2 separate regions of the Homo sapiens genome follow, and region 1 is linked to region 2. The links come from fine-mapping of genetic effects on gene expression. A gene starts in region 2. The other region holds a variant in brackets. All regions are shown on one strand. Distances are between the middles of the regions.

The links. PIP is the estimated chance that this variant, and not a neighbour inherited with it, causes the effect.
Region 1: its variant is fine-mapped to the expression of ANGPT4 in subcutaneous fat (FUSION, PIP 0.95).

The regions. Positions count from the first base shown.
Region 1 is chr20:1,046,326-1,049,230 of GRCh38, forward strand. No RefSeq gene overlaps it. Among named protein-coding and RNA genes, the nearest start is that of RSPO4, 45 kb to the left of the region's middle. The variant C/A (reference allele first, on the strand shown) is at 1,741.
Region 2 is chr20:914,785-917,689 of GRCh38, forward strand. ANGPT4 (angiopoietin 4) reads right to left here and starts at 1,550. Exons shown (of 9, transcript NM_015985.4): 1 at 1,122-1,550. The coding sequence starts at 1,430. LOC105372492 (a long non-coding RNA gene) reads left to right here. Exons shown (of 3, transcript XR_937185.3): 2 at 2,542-2,637.

The sequences.
Region 1 (2,905 bases), 130 kb after region 2:
GTCTGTTAATAGAGGCCCAGCAAGGCCAGCCGAGGCTGTCAACTCACCCCCCACTAGGACCCTGTCATTAGCCACACTCCCCCAACCCTGCCCTTGGGTGGAAGTATGATCTGGTGGGCACTGAGGGGCTGGGCCCATCCAGGCCCCTTATTAAGCCTTATTAAGCCCACAGACGGGGAGCAAAAAGGGGAGAAGAACTTTCTCCCAAAGGTCAGCTGTTGGAAAAAGAAGGTACAGATGTCTCTGGGGTGGTCGTCTACTCTCAGGCCACAAGGAATGTGAAAGTTTGCCTGGCCCAATCTGCTCTGCTGTCTTCTTGCAGGCTGGGAAACTGAGGCCCATACAGGAGACAGGAGGGACACACAGAAGTCGGGACAGAGCCAGACTCAAACCTCAGGCCGGCTCACAGACCATAGCCCAGCCTTTCCCTGAAACAGCCTCAGCATCAACAATGGGGAGGGAAAGGAATGGGCATGAATGGGGCTCCTGCTATATGCCAGGCCCTTGAGCAAAGCATTTTCTGTTCATGGAGCCACTGGTCTCCTCTGTATCCCCATGAGTAAAATGGAAGTTATGCCTGTCCTGTCACGGATTGAACAAGCATTTGTTAAACATCTGTTATACTGTGGGCCAAGCACTGGTCTAGGTGCCAGGAATATGGCATTAACTAGCCAAACAAGGTTTCTGCTTTCAGAGAGCTTACTTTCTAGACAGTGATAGAGACAGACAAATAAGTAGGTAGATAAAATGTGATATGAAGAAAATTGAGGAGTGGTATGAGATGTACAAGGATGGAAGGGACGTTCTTTGGATGAGATGGTTGGGAAGGGCCTCTCTGAGAAGGTGATCATGGTCAAGGTCATTAATTGTCCACCAAGTCCATTCTCCCCTTTGCTAGTATGTGGGCAAAGCCCACAAGTGGCTGTCCAGGCAGGGTCAACATTTCCCAGCCCTATTTGCATGCAGGTGTGGCCATGTGACTAGCTCTTACCAATAGAATGGGAGCAGAAGTGATGAGTGCCACATCCAGGCCTAGCTTTTGAGAAGTGAGGGAGCTTCCCCCATGTTCTTGTTACTTTTCCCCTGGCTGAATTCAAATGATGGCAAGACCCCAAGATAGAGGAGCCACAAGATTAGAAGAGCCTGGATTCCTGCATCACCACATGGAGGAGAGCCACTCATTGCCCTGGCACATCCATTGCATGAGTGAGAAATAAACTTCAGGTGAGACCCAAAAGACATGTGATGAACTGGTTAGGACATTGCAGGCAGAGGAAATAGCATGTGCAAAAGGCTCAAGGCAGAACCAAGCTTGGCATGTTGGCACAGAAAGGATACCAATGTGGCCAGAATAAATGGCACAAGAGGAGGAAATGAGGTGAACCATGCAGGCAGTGGCCTCAGTCAGGAGTCTGTATTTCAAGTGGCCCCAGTGGAGGTGGCGCCATCAGCAGGGAAGAAATACCATGTGGTTCATACTTGGAAAAGATCCCTCTGGCCACTGTGCAGAGATGAGTTGGAAGGAGGCAGGAATGGACACACCAGAGAGGAGCTGGTGCAGTCATCCTAGCCTGGATGAGGCTGGGGACATAAGAGTGAGTGAACAGAGTGGGTTTGGATATATTTTCAAGGGCTTGCTGATGGGTTGTTTGTGGAAGGTGAAGGAAACCAAATAACCCACAAGCCATTAAACAAAATCTAATGCAGAAGCCAATATATATTAGTAAACACTTTAGGGGT[C/A]TCTGTCTAGCTTCTAATCTTCCTTCCCTGAGAACCTCCCACTTATGCCTATCTGATAACTCTACTTATCTGATAAACTGGCCCCTCCCCTGCCCTAGCTCATGGAGCTGGAGATCGGTCCCTGACTGGGGCTCAGCCAATCAGATCATCCCTGGCTGTCAGACCCCAGTGTGTGGCTGGATGGGGAATAGGCTGGGCCCTAGCACTCTCTCCTTGATAGAGATGATGGGGTAGGGGGAAGGTCAGCAGCCCAGAAGCTGAGGAAGAATGAACTCTCCAAGGACCACCTACCCATCCCATAGCAGGCGAAACATAGCTGCAAGTGGACTCAACCACCCTCAACCACAATTGGAGCTGCCACCAGCCAAGTGTGGAAAGGGTTGGTCTTTGCAGAGCCCTGGACTGGAAGAGGAGAGTGGGTCTCCCAGGGCAGAAAATGGGAGTGGCCAGCTCCAATTCTGTGCCTCAGGTTGGGAGACATGATCCTCTGGGTTCTTTCCATACCCTAGACAAGGATATTCCTTGTCTGAGCCTAGACAAGTTATTCCCCTGGGAAGGAGGGAGGTGCTTCTGTTTCTCCATCTGTCAGGTGGCTGAGTATAACAGATTTCATTTCCAAAAATGGCCACAGCCCCCTGCTCCTCATGAACCCTGCCACTCTCCATCAAGAGGGAGAGTTTATTTCTCCTCCCCTGGAGACTGGCAGGACTTTGTGACTGCCTTGATGAATAGAACGCAGCAGAGGTGACTGTGTAACTTCCAAGGGTGGGTAAGAAAAGACAATACAGCTTCTCTCTGGCTCTTTGTCTTGAGACACTCACCCTGGGAACCAGACGACCACGGTGTAAGGAAGCCCAGGCCCCCTGGAAAAGCCAGAGGTAAATGTTCTGGCCGACATTTACCCAGCTGGGGTCCCAGCCAACAGTCAGCATCAACCACCAGACCCATGAGGGAATCAGTCCAGCCCCTGGCCATCAAGTCTTCCATCTGAGGCCCCAGACACCGTGGAGCACAGACAAATCTACCCACTGTGCCCTTCTGGATTCCTGCCCCACACAATATGTGAATGCAATGAATGACTGTTTGATGCCAGTGTGTTCAGGGGTGATGGGTAACGCAGCACTAGATACCCAGAACGCTGACTCAGGCAGACTCTGCCTCCATG
Region 2 (2,905 bases):
CCCGCCAGGGCCAAGCCTGCTTTGCACACCTCTGTAGTCAGTGCTTCTCCGAGGGTACACAATAGGTGCTCACACTGCTGAAAGACGAAAGCATGACAGGGCATTCTACAGCAGCCCTGGTCTTGGGCCAAAACCACAGTGGCATCCTCAGCTCCTTGCTTCCTCCCACTCCGCATCCAATTCACCAGCAGAGCTGATGGGCTCTACCTCCAGAACCCACCAGAATCTTACTGGCCACACCCCCTCCTAGCCCCGTTCTGCTCCAGGCCTCCGGTACCTTGCACCTGATGGCTGCAGCGGCCACCTCTTTGGGCTTCTTCCTTCCACCCTGCCTCCTACAGTCTATGCTGTTGAAATCGAATCACGGGTGTCTGTCTCTGCTCACAACCTTGCAGTGGCTCCCATGACACTCAGAACAAAAGCTGAAGTCCTTCCAGTGGCCCCCCCCCCAGCTGCATGGCCTGCCCTGCTGTCACCTCTCAGACCTCCCCGCACCCTTGCTCCCTCTCCTCTGCTCCAGCTACACAGGCCTTCGCCCCATGGTTCTCCAGGCACACACCGCTGCGGATGCATTCCCTCCTCACGGTCAAAATACATGCAGCTCCCTTTGCAGAACGTTCCCTCAAATACCTGCCTGGCCCACTCTATCATTTCCCTTGTTCTCTGGGTTCAAATGTCACCTCCTCTGAGAAGTACTCTCTAATGATCTGACCTCAAGCAGCCACCCAGGGCCGCCACTTGCCCTCTTTCTTCTTCATTTTGCTTCACCATCTGACATAGTAGATTATCTCTTACTGCCTCTTTCCCCTACTAGTCCAGAGGGAGACATACTATACTGTCGTATCCCCAGCACCCAGGAAGGCTTGGTCCGTTCAGCCCTTGGTCAGGGCTGAATGGATTTCTGTTGGATGAATGAAGGGACGGCAGTTAAAGAGCCAGGTTGCCAGCTGACATTGCCCAATCTTGCTGTGTGGCCTCAGACCCACCCCTGCCCCTCTTTGTGCAGCTCAGAGACAGCCCTCTGTGCTCAGGGAAGGCCTCTTGGATGGACACTCCACCTGCTGATTGTGACAGACCCCAAAGCCGCCCTCTGCCCCCTGCAAACCTCCCATGCCCCGTACCTTCTTCAGCCACTGCGTGTTGTTCTGCAGTGCCTGCTCCAGCTGTTTCACCTGCTGGGTGGGCAACTTCCCCAGGTGCAGTGGGTTGGCCAGTGATTCTCTCTGGAGGGTGTTGGAGTCCCTGGAGACCTCAGGCCCCGGAGGGCAGGGCTCAGACTTGGGCAGCAAGAAGGTGTAGCTACAGTGGCCGTGCTGGACTACAAGTGTCTCGCAGCCCCTATCCGCCTCCTGCCTTGTCTGTTGAGCCACAGACATGGTGGCAACCACAAGGAGGAGGCTGCCCTGCAGCATGGCTAGCTGGGAGAGCATCTGAAGATGTGTCAATGGCGAGGGATGTCTGCTCAGAGCCCTAGGGGCTGTGCCTGGGATGTCCTGCTGCAGCCAACAGTGGCCAGGCTTGCCTGCAGCTGCAGCTACAAACCTCTGTCTGGCCGAGCTCTGTCCAGGCAGCTATTTATACTTGCTCTGAATACCACGGCTGCTCTGCTTGCTTCCTCTCACCGCCTCCCTCCGGCCCCACCCGACACCCTCTCACCTCTATTCTTCACTCCTTCCCTTCCTCCTTCCTCAGTCTTGGTGGCACGTCGCCCTTACCCTAAGCGTGCACCAACCTTGCTCTGTCTGCCTCACCTCTGAGCCCTCTGATTATCCAGTGAGGCCTGGCTTCCCTGCTGGAGGGGAGGGAAGAAAACAGCACACAGACACGCGCACACACTCATGCACACACTCACGAGCACACACTCACACGCACGCTGACACGCACACACATTCATGTACACACAAACGCCAAGCTCCAATGCTGCCCGCTTTGGAAAACCAAATGCAACTTAACTCTCCCTTCCTGTCTCTGTCTTGGTCTCCCTCTTTCCCTCCACCCCCATCCCCTGCCCCCCAAGTCTAAGATCTCAAGTTTCAGTCCCGCTGCCATCCCCTTCTCTCCCCGCTGCACCTTCCTCCCTCTGGTTCCATGTTAGCGCTTGGAGTACAAGTGACCCCCGGAGAGAGCAGAGGGAGGGGAGGAGGCAGAGGGGTGAGGCTGGGGAGGGCCCAGCGAATCCACTTTGCCTCTGGAGACACAGAAAATCCTTCCAAGGTGGGGCAAGTGAGCAACCCAGCTGGGAGTTGCTTCCTGTCCTCTCTTCTCCCTCAGGGCCAGGGGAAAGTGGTATGCCCCAGGATGGCCCTGGCTTGGTTGCTTGTAACAGTAATGAGAAGTTGTCATGTCCTGGGGCAGATTGTCCTGGGGCTGCTGGAGTGGGGATGTGGAGAGGAGGCAGTGGGGAGAGGAGGTTGGAGTGCCAGGAGGCTAACCCTAGATCTCGCTCCCCGACAGCTGGCCACGAGACCTAGGGTGGGCAGCTGTGCCTCTCTGGGCCTCCACACCCTGATCTGTAAACTGGGTAAACCTTATCTCTTGCAGGAGGAATGCGTGTGAGTCCTCAGCATGGGGATGGAGAAGTTTTCAGCTTCTGGGTTCAAATCCTGGCTCTACCATCTACCAGCTGTATGACTTTGAGTAAGTCACTTAACCTCTCTGTGCCTTCATTTCCTCCTGAATGAGGAAAATAATACCACCTACTTCACATGGCATGAAAATTAGGTGAGTTAGAGCAAGGTTGGCACAGAGCGAGCACTAAATAAATATTTTCCGTTGTCAATGTTATAGTTGTCATTGCACCTCCCCTCCCACGACCCACTGGAGCATAAACTCCTCTAGGGCAGGGATTTGTCCCTGGGGGACATGGTCTCCAGGCAGAAGGTGCCCAGGAGTTGGTGGGGCCTTT